Regions from separate parts of the Homo sapiens genome. Here all the other regions are linked to region 1. The links come from fine-mapping of genetic effects on gene expression. A gene starts in region 1. Each other region holds a variant in brackets. All regions are shown on one strand. Distances are between the middles of the regions.

The links. PIP is the estimated chance that this variant, and not a neighbour inherited with it, causes the effect.
Region 2: its variant is fine-mapped to the expression of TNKS2-DT in whole blood (INTERVAL, PIP above 0.99).
Region 3: its variant is fine-mapped to the expression of TNKS2-DT in whole blood (TOPMed, PIP 0.97).

The regions. Positions count from the first base shown.
Region 1 is chr10:91,797,157-91,799,920 of GRCh38, reverse strand. It overlaps TNKS2-DT (TNKS2 divergent transcript), which reads left to right and starts at 1,630. Exons shown (of 2, transcript NR_108071.1): 1 at 1,630-1,684. It overlaps TNKS2 (tankyrase 2), which reads right to left and starts at 1,495. Exons shown (of 27, transcript NM_025235.4): 1 at 1,032-1,495. The coding sequence starts at 1,230. RefSeq lists a silencer at 1,127-1,536 and an enhancer at 1,617-1,786.
Region 2 is chr10:91,842,056-91,844,819 of GRCh38, reverse strand. It overlaps TNKS2 (tankyrase 2), which reads right to left. Exons shown (of 27, transcript NM_025235.4): 16 at 2,429-2,648. Among named protein-coding and RNA genes, the nearest start is that of TNKS2, 45 kb to the right of the region's middle. The variant G/A (reference allele first, on the strand shown) is at 1,107.
Region 3 is chr10:91,687,685-91,690,448 of GRCh38, reverse strand. LOC107984253 (a long non-coding RNA gene) reads left to right here. Exons shown (of 4, transcript XR_001747550.1): 2 at 2,292-2,375; 3 at 2,671-2,764. Among named protein-coding and RNA genes, the nearest start is that of PPP1R3C, 56 kb to the right of the region's middle. The variant C/T (reference allele first, on the strand shown) is at 1,210.

The DNA of each region.
Region 1 (2,764 bases):
AACAGGAGTACTTTAAAAGGTATTCCCCGATTTTTCAAAAAATTGTTTTAAACAATCATGAAATACACAAAACAAAAAACCAGGATTGTCAGAGGTAAGAGGAGGTACTCCCATTTTCAATCACGCATGACTCACCTGAAGTTAGAAACAGTCATCATCTTTCCTACAAGTGAACAGCATGCATGCTTTATGGGAATAAGCTGAATATCCCATCTATGGCTCTTTTAAATTTTTCGACTAAATTTAATATGCTTAAATCATAAAGTGAACCTAATAAATATTAAAATAATGTAATTCAAACGATCTAAATTTCAGAATGAAGCAAGGTTAGTCCCAACTTAAATTCTAGATTCAAGCTAAAGTACTTGCACTATCTTTTCTCTTATACTACCACTTTCCGCCCAACTTGTATGTGTGTGTGTCTAAGGCTTCCCGCACCCAGCCTAAGTCAGGTTTCAGTTCTCCCAAACTTGCCTATTTCCCGTTCTAGTCACTCCAGAAACTTGGTAATGATTGGCTATTCTGATAAACCAATTAACGCTAATGTGTCAACGTCCTATTAAGCTACTCCTCCTAAATTACATCCTTGTATTTTACAAAGTCCTTCAAGACCTTAACCCAAATGGAACTTGCAAGAACGAAAAATTTTGGAGGTAACTGACCTTTTAAATCATAAGGTCTATCAACTACGTCCCCTACTCTTTCTTGTGTGTAGAGGCCTTCTAGGGTAACAAGACCGGAAGTTGGTACAGGTATTGTTGATACTGTAAAACAAAACAAAGCCAAAACCCCAAACCACCCCCAACACCTGGCAAAAAAACCAAACCAAGACAAAACAAAAAACTTCCAGCGAGTGTGGCACGCTCACCCTACCCCTAATCTCCTTAGTCCCCACTGGAAGAGAGCGAGATCACCAGGACCAGAGTCCTGGAGAAAGGTCGGGAGGCGGAGGAGCACTGGTTTCAGACCTGTGGGCCCCGGCTGCGCAGGTGGGGTCTGGAGCGAGGCGAGGGGACGCTGGCCCCGGTTACCTGCGGCGAAGTGCAGCGGGGTGGATTTCCTGCCCGCCGTGTCGCGGCTGTTCACCTTCTCAGGCGTCACCAGCCTCTTGACTCGTTCCACGTCCCCGTTGCGGCACGCCTCGAACAGCTCTCGGGCGGCCGGCTCCACGGCCTCGGCCGCGGCGCTCGCGCAGGCCGCTCCCCCGCCGGCGCAGCGGCGACCCGACATGATCCTGGCCGCCGCCACAGCCAGCAACAGCGCCAGCAACCGGAGCAGGAGCCCCGGCCCCGCGAGCAGGAGGGCGAGGCCCCCCGGAGAAGACGCGCTCAGGGCCCGGGCCGCTTGGCTCCCTGCTGTCACCGGATCCGGCGCAGTCCCATGGCCGCGCCCACGCGCGCCCCTCGCTGGGCTCCCTGCCCCCCGGCTGCCCCGCGGCGGCGGAGGCAGCGCGAATCCGCCGTCCGGGTCCTGAAACGACGCGGCGGCGGAAGCTGGCAAGGCCCCTCCTGCCAGCTCCGTCCAGCCCCGGGAGCGCACGTGACGTCGTCCCGCGCGTGCGCAGTGGCCGGGCACCGGCTGGGCAGGTTTCGGCTAGCGAGGCGGCGCGAAGGGTTTGTGGGAAATGTGAGGCGAGAGGCTTCGGCGGCGGGAGAAGGGGCTTCGTCCCACCGCCATCTTTGCGGTGGGTTCTGCTGAAGCCGAACGATCCTGCATATTGTGTTTTTTGTTGTTGTTGTTTTAAGCCCTGGGCTTTCCAGGCTGAACTTTCTCACTACCATTACACTGAAAAAGAGCCCTTGAAAGTTTTGCTCGGATCTTGCACATTCTTTTGGAAGTCTTACTGTGGAAATTGTCCGTGTTTTCAGCTTCCACATCCCTTTCTCCTGGGAGATTTCTTTTCCGTTTTTTTTACTTTGTCTCTTTTCTTTCCTCCGCAACTGCTTTGTTGTTGTTGTTGTTGTTTCTTGTAAACCACTTCTCAAAAGTGAACTAGTTGCCGTTTAATAGAAGTTTGGATGAACTGCCCCCAAAATAAAGGAAATCCGAACAGTCATGGAAGTTGACTCCAATTGGAGGGATGGCTCTGATCAATTACTCTTTCCACAGTAAGTTATTAGCTCAGGATTGATTAGAGGAACTTTTTGTAAATCAATATTGTACCTGACATGCCTAAAGTTTGGATACACTGAGCATACGCATCTCCAAGAAAGTTTTCTGAGTTATAATCTTTTTCTTTGACCAACAAACAAAAGAAAAGCATATAATTGATTTTCATGCTTAAGATACTGGTGTAGTTTTACACGATAATTCCCCACTACACCCCCTTGTCTTAAACTGAAAGAAAGGTATGCCTATACATACATTTTACTTACAGAAGATGATACATGTTGACCTTTGCCATTCTGAAAAGCATCCCCCCCCCAACCTCCTACCTTAACCTGTTTTTCAGGAAATCCAGTTTTTGTTGGGGAATGTTGACTCACTACAGTGCTAAAAGAGGATGTACACTTTTTTGAGCATTTTTATACATATGAAATTGAAGTTATGGTGCTTATCAATAACATGAACATGCATGAACGAACCTAGGACTAGAACACTACCAATATGATTGCGTTTATCATTTTTCTTCCCATAAATCTGCTATGGTGATCTATGATCAGTGATAAGTTGAAATCACTGTTGTAATTGTTTTGAGGCACCACAAACCACACCCATAGAAGACAGCAATCAATCAATAAATGTGTATGTTCTGACTGCCCCA
Region 2 (2,764 bases), 45 kb before region 1:
ATACATATATATATGTATTTATAAGGCATAGACATTACTGAAAACATAAAAAAAGAGATTTTGTATAAATCTGAAATAGCTCATTGGACTCTATTAACAATTTACCTTCTGGAAAACATTTCCCCCTTGCCTCAAGTTGGAAGCTTTTTGTGTTATCAATTAGCTTTGTAGATTCCCAAAATTATATTGACTGATTTGCTTGTATCTTTCCTATGAAAACCTTCCTACCAAAGTCTCTGCCTTCATGGGTGTTACATACCACTTCTTGAACTCAGGTACATGGGTCTCAGAGGCTGCAAGTCAAAGGTCTGCAATCACATACAAGTCAAACCAGAGTGGGCCTCAGAGTCCTCTTCCCCAGAAGGCCACAAGAGCATGCTTTTTTGCTAGAGAGAACTCAGAGGTACACATCTCTGCAAGTCTAGTAGAGGAACTTAGGTGCTGTTAAAGCCATGAAATAAAACTTATTTCTATTATAGTTTTTATCCTTTTGCTAAAGGATTTAAAGCAAAAGAATTTAAAAAGATCAAGTAAAGAAGAATACAATTATAAAACTACCATAAAATATTACATTAATCTAAAAGTCTTTCTAGGTCTCAAGGTATGGTATTTAACGCTGCAGAAGTGGACAGAAATATTTTATGCATACAAATTATTTGTGACTTACAAAGACAACTTGGACACAGTAATGTTAAGTGTTCTAGATAGGCTACAAGAAAGATATAAAAGCTAACATAAATATGCACAGCACAACTTCCAATCAAAGGTCAAGTCATATTTTGTCTTGCATGGACTAGAAACTCCTGATAGCCAGTGGAAGTAAAGCTTTTTCTCACCATGTTAGCATTTGTGGCTTATCACTTCCAAAATACTTGAAAGACACATAGAGTAATTGGTTTCTTTGGACAGTGAGGTCTCAACTTACATGGAGTGAGAATTTAAAGGTAAAAATCATGTATAACACCAAGTTATAATACAAGACTGAAATGAACATCATACATTTCCATCTCCCACATTACACGAAATGGCAGAAATTTTGCATTATTTTTTCTTGCTTTTTATACCATGTTTAAATCATGTATATTTAGACAAACTTGTATGAGTCC[G/A]CTGTGTCTATGATGGAACTCCACTGAGGTATTAGCTATAGCTCAGTGATTTTAATGATTTCCTAACATCTGTAATGCAGCTGAAAAAGCTGTACTGAAACCACAATATATTGTATATTTGCACTGAAAACAAAGGTACACTGTGCCAGTTTTATGAGTGAAACCTTAAAACAAATGTCACGAAATGAATTGTACCCTGCAAAATTCTTATGTTGAAGCCCTAACCCCAGTACCTTAGAATATGACTCTATTTGGAGACAGAGCCTTTAAAGAGCTAAAAAAGTTAAAATGAGCCCATTAGGGTGGGCTCTAATCTAATTTGACTGGTTTCCTTAAAAGTAGAGACTAGGACATATAGAAAGAGACACCATGTTCCAATGGAGGACACACTGAGAAGGTAGACAGCTGCAAGCCAAGAGGGGGTTTCAGAAGAAACCAACTCTGCCAACACCTTGAACTTGGACTCCTAGCCTCCAGAACTGTGAGAAAACAAATTTCTGTTGTTTAAGCCACCTGGTCTTTGGTATTTTGTTATGAGAACTCTCACAAACCAAAACAACAGATAACTTTGGTGAGAGGCTTATGTAACTTCTGAGAGTTTTGAGATTTTTTTTTTTTCCTGCTTGTGCTTAGCAGCTACCATCAGGAAAAATAGAAAGCTTTAGCTTCCTATAAGGAAGGCTGGCTCAAGTAGGCATATTTTTCAAAACTTGTTTACCAAAGGTGATACCAATAAAATGATTACCTGGAATAATGATTCCCAAAGCACATGGGGACTGGCAGAGCCTACTTCAATTGTTCTTACTGAATGTAACATACTAGTAATAAAGTGAACTCGAACTCAGCTAATAGCTTCAAGTACGGTCGTCCTGTACAAATACACTGAAGAGTATAATGGTGGCATTAGAAGATACTTGATTTGAATTTTTATTTATTTTTTTTATTTTTTGAGACAGGGTCTCACTTTGTTTCTGGAGTACAGTGGCACAATCAAGGCTTATTGCATCCGTGACCTCCTGGGCTCAATCTTCCCACCTCAGCCTCCTGAATAGCTGGGACTACAGGTGCACACCACCACTCCTGGCTAATTTTTGTAATTTTTTATAGAGGTGTGGTTTTGCCATGTTGCCCAGGCTGCTCTCAAATTCCTGGGCTCAAGCAATCCTCCTGCCTTAGCCTCATAAAGTGTTGGGATTACAAGTGTGAGCCACCATGCTTGGCCTGATTTGAATTTTTAAAGTTTAGTTACAGAAAATATTTTACCTGGGTAAAATGAATCTCAGATATTACCAGCCTAAATCTGTGAAACTTCATTCACTTACCTGCTAAATGTAAAGGTGTTGAATGTCTGCCTTGGGTATCGCGGCAATTTACATTATCAGGAGAAGACAACTTCTTCACTCTGGCTAAACAACCCTTCTTGGCAGCATCTAGCAAAGCTGCATCTCCCCTAAGCAGATCTTGAATATCTGTATCTCCATCTTTAACAAGATCCAAAGGAGTATTTCCATCCCTGTTTTTTTTTGTAGGGTCTGCACCATGCTAGGCATGTGAAAAACAGAAAAAAAGGGGGAAATGGCTTAAATGTGCCTTTGGTCAATGAGAAAATAGTCAGTGTTAACTATACCAAAGAAAAACTAAATTTATATTGAGACTCT
Region 3 (2,764 bases), 110 kb after region 1:
TCATTGTTGGAGATTGGATGTGTATGTGTGTGTGTTTTGCTGTGCACCATTATTATAGCAATAGTTGATTAATACAGTAAACATGTGTGGAGCAGGCAACAGATATCAACTGGGGCAACCACAGTCTGGAATTCACTTATTTATCATATGTGTGCTAAATTGCCCCTTTTGGCAAGCCTTGTGCTGGGCTTGGAGCATCAAATGAAAATAAATAGCATGGTCATGGCTGGAGGGGCAAAGACAATCTAGTAACATAATAGACATGTAACAGACAATGCCAACGCACAAGGGTGATAGCAAGGCTGTGTACGGTATGTTCTGGCCACACAGCATGCCTGGAGGGACTTGGAGAAAGTGACACAGAGGATGACATTTGGATCAGATCTTCAAGGATGACTAGGACTTGATCAGGAGGGAAGGAGAAAAGAGCACTGCAGGCCTGGGGAACAGTGCAGAGGCAGGGCCACTGGAGAGTCCCTAAAAGGGAAAGCAGCCCAGTGTGGTTAGAGAGAATGGAGGGGAGTGGCAGGAAATGAGGCTAGAAAGTTGGACTGGGCTGTGTTGGAAGGGCCTGAGACTAAGGAGTGAGGACTTTATTTAGTAGCTTTAGTTCATGGACTTTTAAAAGGAACTCTCTGAGATTTTTAAGCAGTGGATGATGCAATCAAAGCCATGCTTTAGAACAGTGCTTTGTTTTTAACTTTTATTTGAGAGTTAGGGGGTACATGTGCAGGTTTGTTACAAAGGTGTATATATATATACCTTTGTAACAAGGTGTATACATATATATGTATACATATATATGTACACATATATATATGTGTGTATATATATATATATATATAAAATTTTTTATTTTTTTTGAGACAGAGTGTTGCTCTGTTGCCCAGGCTAGAGTGCAGTGGCACGATCTCAGCTCACTACAACCTCCACCTCCCAGGTTCAAGCGATTCTCCTGCCTCAGCCTCCCAAGTACCTGGGATTACAGGTGCATGCCACTACGCCCAGCTAATTTTTGTGTCTTGGGGGTTTCACAATGTTGGCCAGGCTGGTCTCGAACTCCTGACCTCAGGTGATCCACCCGCCTTGGCCTCCCAAAGTGCTGGGATTACAGGCATGAGCCACCGTGCCTGGCCTACAAAGGTATATTGCATGATGCTGAGGTTTGGGATATGACTGAACCCATCACGCAGGTAGTGGACATAGTAC[C/T]ACTATGGTTTTTTTTCAGGTAGTTTTTCAGCCCTTGCTCCCCTCCCTCTCTCCCCTCTCTTCACTAGTAGTCTCCAGTGTCCACTGTTACCACTTTATTAGTACCCAATGTTTAGCTGTCACCTATAAGTGAAACATGCAGTATTTGCTTTTCCATTTCTGCCTCAGTTCACTTAGGTTAGTGGCCTCTAGCTGCATCCATGTTGCTGCAAAGGACGTGATTTCATTGTTTTTGTATGGCTGTAGTACATGGTGTACATGTATCACGTTTTTGTTATCCAGTCACTCTTGATGGATACCTGGGTTGATTCCAAATTTTTGCTATTGTAAATAGTGCTGTGATGAACATATGAATGCATGTGTCCTTTTGGTAGAACAATATATTTTCCTTTCGGTATACATCCAGGAACGGTGTTGCTGGGTCAAATGGTAGTTCAACTCTTAGTTCTTTGAGAAATCTCTAAATTGCTCTCCACAGTGGCTGGACTAATTTACATTCCTACCAAGAGTGTATCAATGTCCCCCTTTCTCTCCACAGCCTCATGGATTTTGTTAAACAGTCAAAAAATAACAGGACAGTGTTTCTTAGGGTGTGTTCCCAGGACCAGTAAATTGTTAGAAATGCAAATTCTTGGTCCAAACCTACTAAACCAGAGACTCCAGAGTGGGCCCAGAAATCTATGTTTTAAAAAGCACTCCAGGGCTGGGTGCAGTGGCTCACGCCTGTAATCCCCACACTTTCGGAGGCCGAGGTGGGTGGATCACCTAAGGTCAGGAGTTCAAGACCAACTGGCCAACATGGTGAAACCCTGTCTCTACTAAAAATACAAAAATTAGCTGGATGAGGTGGTGGATGCCTGTAATCCCAGCTACTAGGGTGGTTGAGGTAGGAGAATTGCTTGAACCCAGGAGGCGGAGGTTTTGGTGAGCCGAGATGGCACCACTGTACTCCAGCCTGGGCAACAACAGCAAAACTCCATCTCAAAAAAAAGTACTCCAAGTCTATGTTTTAAAAAGCACTCCAGGTGATTCGGATACATGCTAAAGTTTGAGATTCACTGCTTAGGACAATTCTCTTTCAGCTGTCAAGAGTCTGGAGTGAGGGCCTCATGCTGGGAAGAGTTTCTGAAGAGCCACAGTAGAATCAGGAGGCACCTCCCTTGAGGGTAAGGAAATATGAGAGATTCTAACTACTCATCTGGCCCCAGAGCAACAAGATCAAGGTGGTCAGGGTGTAGGCAGTATAGGCATTCATCCATTCACTTCTTTATTCATTTGCTCAAGAATCCTTTCTTGGCAATGACTATGAGCAGGTGTGGAACTGGGTCTGGGAGATAGAATTCTAGAAAAGAGGATGTTGTTGCCCTGTGAGGGACTCACATCTAGTGGCATCAGCTCTGTTCTGGGTGGAGCAAGATTCCAAATGCTTACTCATCTCTTTCTCTTTTCCTTTTTCTTTAGAGGTTAATGAGCATTAAATTTTTGATGAACATCAGGGTCTTCAATGAAGAGGATGATGATAATTGCTATCATTGATTGAGCACTTACCATGAGC